3 separate regions of the Homo sapiens genome follow, and all the other regions are linked to region 1. Evidence: fine-mapped expression QTL. A gene starts in region 1. Each other region holds a variant in brackets. All regions are shown on one strand. Distances are from middle to middle.

What was found. PIP is the estimated chance that this variant, and not a neighbour inherited with it, causes the effect. A credible set is the group of variants that fine-mapping cannot tell apart.
Region 2: its variant is the best candidate, but not a certain one, in a credible set for the expression of THADA in whole blood (INTERVAL, PIP 0.61).
Region 3: its variant is the best candidate, but not a certain one, in a credible set for the expression of THADA in whole blood (INTERVAL, PIP 0.81).

What each region holds. Positions count from the first base shown.
Region 1 is chr2:43,593,315-43,599,345 of GRCh38, reverse strand. It overlaps THADA (THADA armadillo repeat containing), which reads left to right and starts at 3,308. Exons shown (of 38, transcript NM_022065.5): 1 at 3,308-3,415.
Region 2 is chr2:43,387,814-43,393,844 of GRCh38, reverse strand. All of the region lies in intron 29 of THADA (THADA armadillo repeat containing), which reads left to right. Among named protein-coding and RNA genes, the nearest start is that of LINC01126, 160 kb to the right of the region's middle. RefSeq lists silencers at 2,403-2,502, 2,543-2,592. The variant C/T (reference allele first, on the strand shown) is at 3,251.
Region 3 is chr2:43,545,402-43,551,432 of GRCh38, reverse strand. THADA (THADA armadillo repeat containing) reads left to right here. Exons shown (of 38, transcript NM_022065.5): 20 at 2,065-2,223. Among named protein-coding and RNA genes, the nearest start is that of THADA, 48 kb to the left of the region's middle. The variant A/T (reference allele first, on the strand shown) is at 2,889.

The DNA.
Region 1 (6,031 bases):
TGTGAGGAATAATGGTGGTATTTCGATGGGGATTGCATTGGATTTGTAGATTGCTTTTGGCAGTATACTTCCTCTAGGTGTTACCATTCCATTTATCTGCCCCTTGCGTACTAGAAGGACTAGAAGGAGTTGCCTCTGCTTGATCTTGCCAATTCCTCTCTTCCCAGTCTCTTTTAAACCCATTCAAATCTGCTCCAAGTAAACTTTGGCAACTTCATCCTTCTAGGTGCTCAGGCCAGAAACTTTGGACTCATCTTTGACTCTTCATTTCTTCATACCCATATTCTATCCTTCAGAAAAAAATCCTGTTAGCTCTGCTTTCAAATTATATCCAAAACCTGTCCACTTCCCGCTCTCCACTGCTACCACCCTGGTCAGTGCCACCAGCATCCTGCCTGCCTAGTTTACCACAACAGCCTCACTGGGCTTCCTGCAGGCTCTACAGTCTTTTATTTTTTTTTCTGTTTTGTGACGGAGTCTCACTCTGCAGCTCAAGCTGGAGTGCAGTGGCGCAATGCTAGCTCACTGCAACCTCTGCCTCTGGGGCTCAAGCAATTCTCGTGCCTCAGCCTCCCGAGTAGCTGCGACTACAGGCACACAACATCATGCCCAGCTAATTTTTTTTTTGCATTTTTGTAGAGACGAGGTTTCACCATGTTCCCCAGGGTGGTCTTGAACTTCTGAGCTCAGGTGATCCACCCGCCTCAGCCTCCCAAAGCGTTGGGATTACAGGCGTGAGCCACCGCGTCCGACCTACAGTCTCTTCTTAACAAAGTAGCTCCAGTGATTATTTTGAAATGTACATTAGATGTTATTATTCTTTTGCTCAAAATCACTCCTCATTTCATGAAAGAGTCCATGAAATAATGTGAAAGCCTTATATAATCCAAAGCCCCTTGTCCCACTCCTTAGTATTTACCTTGCTTGGCTCCGGCCACTCTTGCCTCCTTGCTATTCTCCCAGCAGGCAAGCCCTGCCCTGGAAACTTTGTACTGGCTGTTCCCTCTGTATGGAAGGTTTCCCCTTCACCAAGTGTCTATGTCTCTTGGAAATCTTTACTCAGTGAGGCCTACCCTGATTACCCTATTTAAAGTTGCAATGTACCTCCCCTATACTCTCACTTTCCATTCCCCTATTTTTTCCATGGCGGTGTTAAATTGAACTAAATACCGCCTGAGAAAGCCTCTGCACTTCCATATTTGAGTCCTTGTGGATGAACCATAACCTAACTTAGTAGGTAGACAAGACTGAAAGCCTAATTTAGGAGTGTGCTTCTGTAACAATAGCTGAGTTTCAGCCAATCCCAGCAGCCATACTTCAACTATTCATACAATGCTTACTGTTCAAACTGTGTTCAGGTAAGGCAAATGCCAAGCTGTAACCCATCCAGCTGCTTCCGTACCTCACTTGCTTTTTGTACATCACTTTCCTTTCTTTGTCTGTAAATGTGCTCTGACCACGAGGCATCCCTGGAGTCTCTCTGAATCTGCTATGATTCTGGAGACTGCCCGATTTGAGAATCATTTTTCCCCTTGCTCAATTAAACCCTGTTAAGTTTAATTTGTCTGAAGTTTTAACAGTAGCTTCACCTTTCAACATATGTTTATTATGTTTGCTCCCTAGCCCACCTCTCGCTGTGCAGGGTGAAGAGTTGCAGTGTCTGCCAACAAAAAAGGGGTTCGGACCCACTGAGTTATATAATTAGTAGGTCTGAAACAATATACATATTTTAAAAAACATAAAACTTAAAAATGGTTAAAATGGTAAATTTTGCTGTGTATTTTACCATAATTTAGAAAAAAAGGAAATAAAATCTCACAGCTCCTGTAAAGTAGCATTTCAAGAAATTTTTACTTCAGTTATGTGTGAGTACTTCTACGTCCACAGTTTCAAAGTCTGCAATGTATTTCTTACTATGTCAGGGTCAAAAATACCAGAAAAAATTATGGTGGAGAACCGTCTGCACACACTCACCAGCTGACATGCACAACATAGTTCACAGCAGCAATGTTTAGAACAAAAACTGGAAATAATGCACATGTTAAGAGGCAGCAGGATGGATACATAATGAAGTATATTAAACAATGGAAAATTACGGTCCGGGCGCCATGGCTCACGCCTGTAATCCCAGCACTTTTGGAGACCGAGGCGGGCGAATCACGAGGTCAGGAGTTCAAGACCAGCATGAGCAACATGGTGAAACCCCGTCTCCACTAAAAAATACAAAAATTAGCTGAGCGTGGTGGCGCGCGCCTGTAATCCCGGTTACTTAGGAGGCTGAGGCAGGAGAATCACTTGAACCCGGGAGGCAGAGTTTGCAGTGAGCCGAGATCGCGCCACTGCACTCCAGCCTGGGCGAAGAGCACTACAGCCACCTGTAGGTGAATATGAAAAGCAATGCTGAAAGAAGCAAATTGCTGGAGAATACATACGCAATTCCAAAAGCTTCAAAATTGAACGAAACAAGATAGTGATACATACATTATGTGGTAAAGCTATAAAGAAAACCAAGGCAAGCTGATATAAAAAATTCAGAAAATAATTATTAAAAACTTAAGTCATTAACGTTTAGAGAACTGAAATGTCTCTATTTTCCAAATTAATACTCCTGATAATAGCATCAGGTCTTTCCTGATCTTGCCCACTGTCGCAGCTCCCAGTGACACCCCGTTATTGTATTTATTTTTCAAGGACTGAACCATCTGACAATTTGTATGTGCTGCGTAATACATGTATCCTCAGTAGGGGATAGCTTTCAAGGCTAGCGCTTGGCGACGCTCTGACAGTAGAGTTCATTATCTATTGAATGAATATATGCGCTTTGGCACACGTTGGTTCAGCACTACTCATTTTAGTCCGAATCCTTCTCGTGGCTTCCGTTCAGTCGCCGCCCAAACCCCTGCCCCATCTCGCAGGCTCTAAACTCCCTGGACTCGTTCCCGAGTCCCAGACGTAGTTTTCTCCTAGACTCTGCACTGGGCCAACAGAGTGGGAGAAAGGTGGAAGGTCTGGATTGGGAGAAAAGCGCTTCCCAGGCGTCCAAGCATGTGAAGAGAATGAGGTCTTTTCATTCAACAAGAGACCGTTGAATGAAGGCCCCTCAGCAACAAGGCCCGTCAGCCCTAACGCCATGAGGAACGCGCGGCGCTGACGGTACAGTGGCTGGTTAACTAAACCGGATTGCTACCGGCCACCCCGGTGACGTCACGACCTCCTCGAACTCCTGATTGGAGGAGCTGCGTTTGGTCAATTCTCGCGATGACTCCTCCAGGTTACCCCTCTCTCCCTCCCTTTGCCCTGACCCGGTAGTCGACCGTGGACCGCGCTGCGAGCCTCGGAGACGCCGTAGAAGGAGACCTGCTTCCGGGACTGGACCAGGCGCCTGCGACTCTTCTCAGACGCCGACGTGCACGAGGTTTGGCTCCCAGGTGTCCTGCCTGCCAGACCCGCGGTAGCTCGGCTCGGCCAGTTTTGCTAGGGCTGCCTGGCGAGCCACACCAATTCCCATCCTTTGGTATCGCCAGGATTCGGCGGCTGTGAAACTGATTTCCGGTCGCTAAGGTCTCCATGGAGACAGCACTTTAACCACTTTCTCCCACTGTCATTCCTCGACTCCACGTGGTTCAGAAATCGCCCAGAGAATGTTTGTGGGAGTCAGCCAGGAAGGTGTAGAGTGAAGCAGCGTTCTAAAGGGAAGCAGTAAGTGGGACCTAGGAGGAGTGTAATTTACTGGGCACCTTCTGGCCTTGCGGTAGACACGGGATTTACCCCCTTGGGGACCCTGGTTCTTCAGGACACACGTTTAGGCATCATTTGAGCAGGCATAATTACCGAGTCTGCTTTTGTGTAGCCCTCAGAATTGCAAGAGCAAATCCTCCTGCAAACTTGCTTACCTTTCACCAGAGAATAGTCTCCCTAGTTAGGTTTCCCAGTCTCTTCTGGCTTTGTACGATGGTCACTTTCTTAGGAAGCGTGCCTCTATTCCTCTAGATCTGACTATCCCTTTACAAATTATTCTGTTGTCGACACTTTCCTAGCTGCGTCCATTTTTGGTTAAGTGGTTGCTCACCTGCCATTACTGTATGGATTTCTTACTTCCCAAACAGACCATAGGTTCTTAAGATGTAGAATGTCACTTAGATGTAGAATGCATTTTAGGTACCAGATAGTCCACCTTCCTGCCCTTAAAGACATATATCCCTTCTAGAACATCTCTGACAAATGTTTGTTAATTAATTTGTTTATTCGTGAAGTGTTTGTTAAACACCTACTATGTGCCAGGCACTGGTTTGGAAATTGAGACTTGAAACATGAACAAAATAGATTAAAGTTGCTGCCTTCATTCAGTTTGCTACTAGGTGAGACAGACAATATACAAATTTACAAGTTAGGGTAATTTCTGGTACTAGTAAGTGCTATGAAGAAAATTAACGGAAATGGTGTCTACGTGTGTTGTATTGGTGAGATTTTAGATAGAGTGGTCATGGAAGGCTTTTAGAAGGTAATGTTGCAGCAGAAACATGAATGGTGAGAAGGAGTCAGTCTTGCAAAGATGTGGAATGAACATTAAGGGGCAGAGATACTGAGAAGTGTAAAGCCTCTTAGGTGGGAATAAGAGCATCAGGAAGTACAAAGCTCTTGAGATGGTGAAGAGGAGATTGGTTTGAGATGAAGAGTGGAGGAAGGCAGGGTCAGATTATTTAGGGCCTTGAAGGGCAAAATCTCAAGTATTTATTTATTTATTTATTTATTTATTTATTTGAGATGGAGTTTCGCTCTTGTCTCCCAGGCTGGAGTGCAGTGGCACGATCTCGGCTCACTGCAACCTCTGCCTCCTGGGTTCAAGCCATTCTCCTGCCTCAGCCTCCGGAGTAGCTGGGGTTATAGGCGCCTGCCACCACACCCGGCTAATTTTTGTATTTTTAGTTAGTGCAGACGGGGTTTCACCATGTTGGCCAGGCTGGTCTTGAACTCCTGACTTCAGGAGATCCACCCGCCTCGGCCTCCCAAAGTGCTGGGATTACAGGCACGAGCCCCCACTCCTGGCCTCAAGTTTGAATTTTATTCTAAGTGTATTTAGAAACCCTTGGAAAGTTTTAAGGAAGAGAGTAAGTAATTCAATTTGATGAGAGTTTTTTTTAAAGAGATTGCTTTGATGATTGTAAACAGAATGGGCTCTTTGGAGGTAAGTGTAGAAGTCAGGAGACCAGTTAGGGAGCTGTTTCAGGAGTCCAAGAGAAAATATTCAGTCATCTTCTCTTTGAATATTCCTGGTGTTGGAAAATTTCTTTGTTTAAAAGGTAGCCCAGTCCTTAGTGGGACCATAGAGCTTTTCCTTTGTATTGATCTGGAATCTGTTTCCCTGTAGCTTGTACTGACTTTTACTAATCTAATAGCAAGACAAGAAGTCTAAGGCTGGGCGCGGTGGCTCACGCCTGTAATCCCAGCACTTTGGGGGGCCGAGGTGGGTGGATCACGAGGTCAGGAGATCGAGACCATCCTGGCTAACATGATGAAACCCCGTCTCTACTAAAAATAGAAAAAATTAGCCGGGCGTGGTGGCGGGCGCCTGTAGTCCCAGCTACTCGGGAGGCTGAGGCAGGAGAATGGCCTGAACCCAGGAGGCTGAGCTTGCAGTGAGCGCAGATCGCGCCACTGCACTCCAGCATGGGCGAAGGAGCAAGACTCCGTCTCAAAAAAAAAAAAAAAAAAAAAGTCTGTAGTAGACAAATAAATCTATTCCCTTTTTCTCCAAAACAGTCTAGCAGCTGTTTTAAGGCTCTTGTTCTGTTGACTTTTTCTCCAGGCCAAACACCTTTGGTTAACTGAGCTGTTCTCTGAAGGAGGTGCTCTCTAGGTCCTTCAGAAATAGTTCCATTGTTTGTTATGGCTCCTTAGAGTATGGCCGCCAGCGCTGTACCTAATGCTCTACATGTCACCTGGCCTGTTTGAATAAAATCATGCACTCTGATATGGCTGACTTCTGTGGTTTTTGGCAGTCATCTTGGGCTGTTGAGCTGTTTCAAACCAC
Region 2 (6,031 bases), 210 kb after region 1:
ACCATTTGAAATAAGAGTTTGAATTTTCAGTTTTTTCATTTCTTGTCTATTTTGGGTCTTTTGTTGTTGTTGTTGTTGTTATGTACAAATAAAAGGTGATCTGTTGCTCTTAATTTAGCTCTTTTTTTTTTTTTTTTAAGACGGAGTCTCGCTCTGTTGCCTAGGCTGGAATGCAGTGGCACCATCTTGGCTCACTGCAACCTCTGCCTTCTGGGTTTAAGCAATTCTCCTGCCTTAGCCTCCCGAGTAGCTTGGATTACAGGCGCCTGCCACCACGGCTGGCCAATTTTTGTATTTTTAGTAGAGACTGGGTTTCACCATGTTGGCCAGACTGGTCTTGAACTCCTGACTTCAAGTGATCCCCCCAACCTCGGCCTCCCAAAGTGTTGGGATTACGGGCGTGAGCCACCGCACCCGGCTGAGATAACATATTAAACTCTAAAGCCTGTGTTCCTATTTTCTTTAGAATGTGCTGCCTCTGATGTGAATAACAGCTTTTTATGGCTAAGGAAAATAAACCAAGGATCCATCTAAAGATATACTTTATCACTCAGTTGCTCTCCTTAAATCTAATTGGGTATGTTATGATACAGTGGAAACAAAGTAAATCTATTTGTGTTATTGAGACAGAAGAAGTCAGTGAAACCCAGGGAAGCTGCGACCCGTGAAAGGTATATTGTACCCTCCCCTCTCTACTCATCTCTCTGTCATCATTTCTCTTTGGTCTTCCATTTAATGCTACTAAATCTGTATCTGGAAATACAGATCCTCCCTTGGGACCTAGGCTATAGCCAAGTCCATAGTTGCCCCACCTTCTGTCATCCTTAAGGGTTTGACAAAACCTCTCAAACTTGGGTAACCATAGGAGTTATGGATCCTAGATCTAGGAACTGATAGGACCATGAGAAGGTGGTCAAGACTGAATTTAATTCAGCAGACACTGTAGCTTGCTTACCCTGTCCTAGGCACTGGTGAAAACACAAGGAGTTTGCCTTTGATGCAAACTTAAAGAGAGCTGTGGATTAGAAGCCAAGTGAGCCCTCGGGGACCAGGGATCATATGAGTAACAGAAATGAAGAGGAGACAGAAGATACAATGCCAGACAGGGCATCAGGCATAAAAGGAGACTGAAACTGAGGCCATTTCTGCTTGAGTCTGGAGCACCCCAATAGATTCTGTGTTTACTGTAGAGCCAGAATCTTTACGTGATGGGAACAGTAGTGTTGGGCTGGATGGGACACATGAAGACCGAAACTGGAGTAGACTTTAGCATTACCTTTACGGGAAGAAAACCAGAAAACAAAGAAAGAAGTAAAGGTAGGCTAGTTCGGCCAGCTAGTTGTATGAAGGAATCACTGTGCAAGAAGCAGGGATGGAACCAACCATCCTTCACTCTATTCTACAGACAGGAGCAGTGGAAGCAAGTAGAAAATCAGTGATAGAGGTAACCTTAAGTGTCAACTCTACTGGAGTTTCTTAAATAAGGAAGCAAATGAACATTTATAGAAAAGATATGTATATATATTTCTGTTAATATTACTGTTACATCAAAACTTGTGATTAAATATAAAAGAATTATTTCCATCTTTTAAAAATGTAACCATATGAGTCAATGTCTTAGTGCTTTAAGAATTTTAATGTCATTTATATTTCTTAAAACTACAAAATTGTGAAACATAAAACGGTCCAGCTGTCCAGAAATGGAACATTTCTTGATAGATTCCATTTGGCGACCTAAGATGTTGGCCGTCTCCATTGTTGTTTGTTTTATGCCTCGAAAATATTATTTCAGAATGGAAAATCAAAAACAAAAGCATGAAACTATGCTGATGCTGTAAGTTATAAATGGATTTCTGGTCTGTGTGCTTTTTTTCTGGAATGAGTCATAATTTAAAGAAAATGCTCACTCTTGTCAGGTGGCCAGATTTATTCTTTCTTTTTGAAGACTTGTGTTAGTGTGAAAGGAGAAAAATCTTAAGTTGCTAGAAAGGTCCCTAGTCCAAGAAGGGTTAAGGCAGAGTTTCTCCAGTGGCGTGGCTATGGATGTGCCAAGGTATTTATTGATTCCTTCAGCTCTCAGGGAGTCTTGAGTGTGGCCTGGCAGGGCTGGAGCCTCTAGGCAGTCACCTGCAGCTGGGAGCAGCATCGTTGGTTTTATCCCAGAGTGCCAAAGAAAGATTACTTTCTATGTGTGCCTTGATGTGAAAAGGATTGGGAAGCATTGGGCTCTTAAAAAAAAAACTAAAGAAAGGACTAAACCTTGTTAAATCTTACCTTTTGGCAATATATTCCTTTCTGGATATAAGCCCAAAAAAGTCATTTTTAATTAAAATGCTACTTTTGAAGATGAATTAATCCCTTCCTTATAAACATCCAAAAGCTTTTATTTGGTGTCTGTTACTTAGGGAGCTTTTGCTGGGTGTTGGAGACAGCTTTTAGCTGCCAGGTTCTGGAGCATTGACTGTACTGCACTGTGTGGTTGTTCCCCAAGCAATGTACTGCTGTTTTGAAGTGCTCAGAACTCAGAGTATCAGTCAGGGGCAAGTGAAACTTAGAGATTTGCCATTTGATGTGTCCTCAGGTGTTTGTAACTGTTCAGGATCAGAGTAGGGGAATTAATAGCAAAAAGAGGAAAAATATATATTTTTTTCAGTGAGAGATAGAGTGTGTGTGTATGTGATGTATGTGTGTGAGTGTGATGTACCAGTCACTGAGTTCCTACAGAGCCTCTTCTGGAGGATAGGTGTTATTCCCATCCTACTGGTGAGAAAACTGAAAACAAGAGGGGTTGTGCGATTTCACTAAAGTTATGCAAGATTAAATGGTAAAAAGCAAAACTGAGATTCAAGCCCAGGATCGTTTGAAGCTTTTGAGCTTGTGCAGTTAGCCACTGTAGTATACTGCTTCTCTGGATGAGGAAAAGGAATATTGTCAGGGGAGAAGGATTCTATCTGGGGCCTTCGGGTTGTGGGTAAAATGGGATTTGATGTCATCTATTTATTCATTCGACAACTGCTAATTGAACACCAGCTACGTGCCAGGCACTGTTCTGGGTGCTTGGACTATATCAGAGAACAGAAGAGACACATCCTTGCCCTCCAAGATTACTGCTCTCAGTGTACTTATATTCCAGCAGCAGGGAGACAGTAAGAAATGTTCAAGAAATAAACATTCAATAAAACATATCAGAACTTATTATAGTAAATATAATAGGTAAATTAGATAGTTTGTTAGAAGGTAATCGTTGCTG[C/T]GGACAAAGGAACAAGTAGAGTAGGCTAAGGGGAATCAGGAATAGATAGGAGAGGAGGGCAGTTGGCATGTCAGAATAGTCGTCATTGGAAACGTTTGAGCAAAATTCTATCACAAGACATGGGAAAACTTTCTTATTTTTTGAATAAAGGTAAAGGGTAGACATATTTTCTTCTGAAACTGTGCTGGCTGCAGACATTTGTAAGCAGGTATACCAACTGCATGTTTGAGACTATCTTTACCCATAGGAAAGTGCCAACAGAGTGGGCAGTAGTGGATAAACAAGGCCAGGAAGGATGCCATTACTTTAGAAACTTAAGAGCTCCCTAAAGCGAGGTGGTCATACTATAGATGCCAGGACTGCTGGGGACTCTGAAACCCTTTTCTTCTGGAATCACCGTGAATACCGTCAGTCTGTCATGGTTCTGATGAGCTTAGGCAAAGAGCAAAGTATCCATCATATTACTTCCTCTGCTTTCTGGTATGACCTTTACCTTAACCCTCTGGACCTGGGCCTTAGAGATGTAGAGTAAATGTGGAGAATGTTTATTCTTCTGCTTAGCAAATATTTATTGAGAAGTTAAGTACATACTATGTCAGGTACTGTGGAGGATACAAAGAAAATTTATAGCATATTCTCTGCTCTCAAGAAGCTTATGAGCTACCTGGAAAATAAACCATTGACACTGCAGACAATTACACAGAAATACGTGGCTACATGTTATGTGCACCAAGCATGTGGCCGAGATCACACATCTGAGAGGCAAGACCAGGATGGACTGGAGACATGAGAGAAGGCTTCAGGGGAACATTGGGCCTTGGGATAAACCTTGAAACTAGCTTTCTGTTTTTGAGGCAAGGGACATGGTATGAGCCCAGGCATGGAGGAGGGCATCAGAAAGTGTTTGCAGGAGGCAGTGAGTAAACCAGCCTGTTGTGTCAAGGAGAGAGGATGTGTGAATGGCAGGGTGGGTGCAGGTCAGCATGTGAGAGACCACAAATGCCGGGCCAAGCAGTTTGGGCTCTGTAGGCCTGTAGCCTTCAAAGTGGGGTTTGCAAGACAATAATATATGTGGAAGAATACGTTAGTGTGTTATTTCTTTTATCGCATCCTGTTTTATTATTATTATGGTTATTGTTAGAGACTAGGGTATCGCTATGGTGCATAGGCTGGCCTTGAGCTCCTAGGCTCAAGTGGTCCCCCTGCCTCAGCCTCCAGAGTAGATGGGACTACAGGTGTACCTGGCTTTTAGCTATTATTTTACATTTGATATGTAATGTACATAATGTATTAATAGAATAATATATAATTTCTAAGTTAATAAGTACACAAAAGCTGGGAGCATGTGCTCAGAAAGGTCCTTTCAGGTAGTAGGTAAGAGTGGACTCTGGAGCCAGCTTGTCTCCCTCTGGATCCTAGCTCTGCTGCTTACTAGCTGTGTTATTTTGGGTGAGTTACTTAATTTCTGTGCCTCCACTTCTTCTGTAAATGGGAAAATAAAATGACCTCATAGGGTGGCTGCGAAGATTAAATGAGTTAATATGCGGGAAGTGGGTAGCAAGGTCTCTGGTATATAGTAAATGCTCAGTAAATGTTAGTTGCTATTATTAATACTTGCTGCTACTGCCACCACCACTGCTACGGGCGGGGGGTGAGGGGGTTATGATTAAAAATGTAAGAATCACTGGTGTAGATGGTGAGTAAAAGACCTTGAGCTAAAGAAAAATGTGTTTAAAAAAATTAATGTTGTACATTGAAATAATACTGTAAAACATGAGGATTCCTATTGATGTGTGAGTGCATGAGACAAATAAGTCCATTTTCAGCAATTTTGACTTTATGTGTTATCATATTTCACAGAGAGGTTCCTCCGGTCAGTCACTGTGTTCTCTGCCTTCCTGTAGATCATGTTAAAGATTATAAGAGCTGAGATTAGCTCAAATTTTTAAGGGCAGAGTTCTTGCCTATCAGGTTGTTATTCCTTGCACCTGTTTTGTTTTGAATTACATCCTCTCCCTCAGATCCCACTGGAAACTTGAGGAATCAGTGTCTCACACTGTCTGAGACAAAGGACTCTTTTATCATGGGAAGGGAGAAATTTGAAGTTCATAAAGTGAAAGGAGATACAGGATCCTCCTAGATAGATTAATCTAGCACATTCCAAGTTTTTTTTTCATCTTGGAAGATATGCTTTCCATCCCCTGCGAGCCATTCCACTCTTACTGTCTGAGACTTCATATGACTGACGATAATTCTGAATATACTTTAAAAATTATGCAACACAACAAAACATCTCACCGTGGGTACACTGTCAGGCTTTTGTCATTTCCTAGAATCCCTGTAAAATATCTGATGGTATGTGGTCCCATAATGTGAAGGGATTTGTTTGGTGGTTCCCAACCAATAAAAATAGTATTATTTGTTGTTATTTGTTTTTAGTATATGCAAATGGAATAGGCCAAAAGTAAGACCTTTGTTTTTATTGGGATAGCATATTTGAGATTGCACGTTTATGTACTTGTGCTATAGCTCTTAGATATATTTATGGCACCCAACGTATTTGAGTTACTAAGGACACAGCTGACCATTTAAAAGCACTGTGGTTGAGTATAGCCAATTTGGCAGCCACCCCAGATGCCTGAAGTAAAATTGACACACAGGCTTAAAGGAAAGTTTAAATAAGTAATAAAACTCTTTTCCTATTTTAGACCATATTGTTGTTCATGACATTCTTGCATTTCTCTGTATTGCTACCCACTTCACCCTTTGCTTTTGTGGCAG
Region 3 (6,031 bases), 48 kb after region 1:
GCTTATTGGAGCATCTGTATTTTGGATTTTCAGATTAGGGCTCCTCAGCCATTAAGTACAATGCAGATATTCCAATATTCAAAAAAATAAATTGAGAACGTTTTTGGTCCCAGGCATTTCAGATAAGGGATGCTTAACCTGTGCTAAAATTGAGTGTTCCTTTTAATACACAGAAAAATCATGAAATATATTTATGTTTGGTGTTGAAATAAAGTTTGTAAATGTATTTTAGAGTGCAAAGAGAGGCTTGTATTAGAAAAACTGACTGTATCATAAACACTCACTGAACCATATGCTGAAATACCTTGGGCTGATAATTAAGGTAATGTGGAGTTATGTGTTTTGCACAGAGAATATTAGGTTTTGTTCTTTCCTAAAAATGAGTTAGAAGATTGGTGATGGTTCACGATAGTAAGACACATTTATTTAGCCTGTTGTTAGTCTAAATACCAAATTATTTTATTTAATTAATTTTTTTTTGGTAGAGATGGGATCTTCCTGTGTTGTGCAGGCTGCTCTTGTCAAGCAATCCTTCTGCCTTGGCCTCTTAAAGCATTGGGATTACAGGCCTTAGCCACTGTGCTGGCCTTAAATACTAAATTTTGTCGCTTTAGATTTTCTACTTGAGCAGTGCATAAGAATAAGGAACATGCAATCTTATAGCTAATATTTGGGTCAGCAAAGTACCCATATATTCTGGATGAGAAATCTTGAATATTTCTGTTACCTACTGTGGGTAGATCCTACAGAGGATGCTAACATTATCTTTATTAGTGAAGAGTTTTAAGGTATCAGTTGGTCTCAAAAACTGTCTTTGCCCCACAGACTTTTCCTTCATTCTGCCTGTCTTTTTACCTCTGGTTGTCTTCATTTTTGCTGCTTCTTCCCTGTGTTATCTGCCATACATTCTGAATTGCATGAGGAAAGTCTCCCCTGAAAGCTGTAAAATTGAATGGATAGGATTCTTAAAAATTTATTCTCTGATCTTTTCTTGGTCTTTGCGTGGTTTCTTTTGGGGTCATTGTTAGTTTTTCATGGCTGTTGAAATTTATTTTTGACAAAATTCCAGGAAGGAACATAAGATGTTGATTGAATCATCATGATAGTAATTTGCGTGTTTGTATTTCCCATAGTACCTAAATATAAGTCAAAATAATAGATGTACAATAAATACCGGTTCTTCGATTTGTTAATTGATTTCAGATGATTACCAATGGCTAGTTTTGAAAATCTGAGCCTGGCTAACTCCTTACTACCTACATCCATTCATTCCTTCAACTCATGTTCCTGAACCTCTGCTGTGAGCCAGTTTCTGTTATAGGCACTCGTCACTCAGTAATGAACAAAGTGTTGCATTCATGGAGCTTACATTTCCTAATCCAGTGAGTGCTTAGGGAATAAAAATGAAACTTAATGTAATATGAAGACTGTAAATCATAATTAGAAAGCAGTATATTACATAATGTGTTTCAAAGTTGTGGAGTCGTTACGATATTCCTGTCCTATAAAAGATTGTTTTTGCTGTTGATGGGTTTTTAAAAATGTCTTTTTACCTTTCTATCTTTAAACTTTGATACCTTGTATTATGATGGGGAAATAATCTATTTTCTATTTTTTATATTTATTTATATTTTAAATCAAATATTGATTTTTTTCTACTTTTCTGTTGCCTGCTTCATTTTTCTTTCATAGAGAAATAGCCTCTTAAAACTAAATTTATTGAAGTTTATTGCACTTCTTTGACATGATTAGCACCATATTTGAGATATTTAGACAACACTAAGAAAAGCAGTGTAGATGACATGGTGGCCTTTGTCCTGTGGACAGTTTCAGTGAGTTTTTTTTGTTGTTATATTTCAGTCTAAATTGCCATATTTTAAAAATGCACTCAAGCATCATGAAAACTGTATAAATAATTTTCATATTATCCACCTTGTGAGTCCCTTCTAATAAAGCTGATTATTAAGTATTGAAAATTATAGATTTTTTGAGTAAGCATCCCCAAGGGAAATCTGGCATGTGATGTGTTACTGGGTTTCATGTACGCTCATTTCTTTCCCTCAGAGTCAGCAAGCCGCTTACAGATGATTCTGAATGAGATTCAGCCTCGAGATACTAATGATTATTTTAACCAAGCCAAAATATTGAAAGAACATGATAGCTTTGATATGAAGGACTTGAATGCTAGTGTGGTGAATATTGATACTTCTACAGAAATCAAAGGTAACTTGTATAAAATGGATACTGTAATTCATGTTTAAGTAACCAGTAAAATGTACAGAATGCCCTTTTTATATGGTAAATTAGAGGTTGCAAATCTGTGCAGAACATTTCTAGAAAATAAAGTTTTTTAAAAATTTTGTTTTGGGAAAGATTTGGGTTTAGGAATGGATTTATAAGACTTTTACCAGGGGGGTGGAGCCAAGATGGCCGAATAGGAACAGCTCCAGTCTACAGCTCCCAGCGGGAGTGACGCAGAAGACGGGTGATTTCTGCATTTCCATCTGAGGTACCGGGTTCATCTCACTAGGGAGTGCCAGACAGTGGGCGCAGGACAGTGGGTGCAGCGCACCATGCGCGAGCCGAAGCAGGGCGAGGCATTGCCTCACTTGGGAAGCGCAAGGGGTCAGGGAGTTCCCTTTCCTAGTCAAAGAAAGGGGTGACAGACGGTACCTGGAAAATCGGGTCACTGCCATCCTAATACTGCACTTTTCCGACGGGCTTAAAAAACAGCGCACCAGGAGATTATATCCCGCACCTGGCTCAGAGGGTCCTACGCCCACGGAGTCTCGCTGATTGCTAGCACAGCAGTCTGAGATCAAACTGCAAGGCAGCATCGAGGCTGGGGGAGGGGCGCCCACCGTTGCCCAGGCTTGCTTAGGTAAACA[A/T]AGCAGGCAGGAAGCTCGAACTGGGTGGAGCCCACCACAGCTCAAGGAGGCCTGCCTGCCTCTGTAGGCTCCACCTCTGGGGGCAGGGCACAAACAAACAAAAAGACAGCAGTAACCTCTGCAGACTTAAATGTCCCTGTCTGACAGCTTTGAAGAGAGCAGCGGTTCTCCCAGCACACAGCTGGAGATCTGAGAACGGGCAGACTGCCTCCTCAAGTGGGTCCCTGACCCCTGAACCCTGAGCAGCCTAACTGGGAGGCACCCCCCAGTAGGGGCAGACTGACACCTCACATGGCCGGGTACCCCTCTGAGACAAAACTTCCAGAGGAACGATCAGACAGCAGCATTCGCGGTTCACAAAAATCCGCTGTTCTGCAGCCACCGCTGCTGGTACCCAGGCAAACAGGGTCTGGAGTGGACCTCTAGCAAACTCCAACAGACCTGCAGCTGAGGGTCCTGTCTGTTAGAAGGAAAACTAACAAACAGAAAGGACATCCACACCAAAAACCCATCTGTACATCACCATCATCAAAGACCAAAAGTAGATAAAACCACAAAGATGGGGAAAAAACAGAGCAGAAAAACTGGAAACTCTAAAAAGCAGGGTGCCTTTCCTCCTCCAAAGGAATGCAGCTCCTCACCAGCAACGGAACAAAGCTGGACGCAGAATGACTTTGACTTGTTGAGAGAAGAAGGCTTCAGATGATCAAACTACTCCAAGCTACAGGAGGAAATTAAAACCAAAGGCAAAGAAGTTGAAAACTTTGAAAAAATTTAGACAAATGTATAACTAGAATAACCAATACAGAGAAGTGCTTAAAGGAGCTGATGGAGCTGAAAGCCAAGGCTCGAGAACTACGTGAAGAATGCAGAAGCCTCAGGAGCCGATGCAATCCACTGGAAGAAAGGGTATCAGTGATGGAAGATGAAATGAATGAAATGAAGCGAGAAGGGAGGTTTAGAGAAAAAAGAATAAAAAGAAATGAACAAAGCCTCCAAGAAATATGGGACTATGTGAAAAGACCAAATCTATGTCTGATTGGTGTACCTGAAAGTGACAGGGAGAATGGAACCAAGTTGGAAAACACTGCAGGATATTATCCAGGAGAACTTCCCCAATCTAGCAAGGCAGGCCAACATTCAGATTCAGGAAATACAGAGAACGCCACAAAGATAATCCTTGAGAAGAGCAACTCCAAGACAGATAATTGTCAGATTCACCAAAGTTGAAATGAAGGAAAAAATGTTAAGGGCAGCCAGAGAGAAAGGTCGGGTTACCCACAAAGGGAAGCCCGACTAACAGCGGATCTCTCGGCAGAAACTCTATAAGCCAGAAGAGAGTGGGGGCCAATATTCAACATTCTTAAAGAAAAGAATTTTCAACCCAGAATTTCATATCCAGCCAAACTAAGCTTCATAAGTGAAGGAGAAATAAAATACTTTACAGACAAGCAAATGCTGAGAGATTTTGTCACCACCAGGCCTGCCCTAAAAGAGCTCCTGAAGGAAGCACTAAACATGGAAAGGAACAACCGGTACCAGCCACTGCAAAATCATGCCAAATTGTAAAGACCATTGAGGCTAGGAAGAAACTGCATCAACTAACGAGCAAAATAACCAGCTAACATCATAATGACAGGATCAAATTCACACATAACAATATTAACTTTAAATGTAAATGGACTAAATGCTCCAATTGAAAGACACAGGCTGGCAAATTGGATAAAAGAGTCAAGACCCATCAGTGTGCTGTATTCAGGAAACCCATCTCATGTGCAGAGACACACATAGGCTCAAAATAAAAGGATGGAGGAAGATCTACCAAGCAAATGGAAACCAAAAAAAGGCAGGGGTTGCAATCCTAGTCTCGGATAAAACAGACTTTAAACCAACAAAGATCAAAAGAGACAAAGAAGGCCATTACATAATGGTAAAGGGATCAATTCAACAAGAAGAGCTCACTATCCTAAATATGTATGCACCCAATGCAGGAGCACCCAGATTCATAAAGCAAGTCCTGAGTGACCTACAAAGAGACTTAGACTCCCACACAATAATAATGGGAGACTTTAACACCCCACCGTCAACATTAGACAGATCAACGAGACAGAAAGTTAACAAGGATATCCAGGAATTGAACTCAGTTCTGCACCAAGCGGACCTAATAGACATCTACAGAACTCTCCACCCCAAATCAACAGAATATACATTTTTTTCAGCACCACACCACACCTATTCCAAAATTGACCACGTAGTGGGAAGTAAAGCTCTCCTCAGCAAATGTAAAAGATCAGACATTATAACAAACTGTCTCTCAGACCACAGTGCAATCAAACTAGAACTCAGGATTAAGAAACTCAAAACCACTCAACTACATGGAAACTGAACAACCTGCTCCTGAATGACTACTGGGTACATAACGAAATGAAGGCAGAAATAAAGATGTTCTTTGAAACCAACGAGAACAAAGACACAACATACCAGAATCTCTCGGACACATTCAAAGCAGTGTGTAGAGGGAAATTTGTAGCACTAAATGCCCACAAGAGAAAGCAGGAAAGATCCAAAATTGACACCCTAACATCACAATTAAAAGAACTAGAAAAGCAAGAGCAAACACATTCAAAAGCTAGCAGAAGGCAAGAAATAACTAAAGTCAGAGCAGAACTGAAGGAAATACAGACACAAAAAACCCTTCAAAAAATTAATGAATCCAGGAGCTGGTTTTTTGAAAGGATCAACAAAATTGATAGACCACTAGCAAGACTAATAAAGAAGAAAAGAGAGAAGAATCAAATAGACGCAATAAAAAATGATAAAGGGGATATCACCACCGATCCCACAGAAATACAAACTACCATCAGAGAATACTACAAACACTTCTACGCAAATAAACTAGAAAATCTAGAAGAAATGGATAAATTCCTCGACACATACACCCTCCCACGACTAAACCAGGAAGAACTTGAATCTCTGAATAGACCAATAGCAGGCTCTGAAATTGTGGCAATAATCAATAGCTTACCAACAAAAAGAGTCCAGGACCAGATGGATTCACAGCCGAATTCTACCAGAGGTACAAGGAGGAACTGGTACCATTCCTTCTGAAACTATTCCAATCAATAGAAAAAGAGGGAATCCTC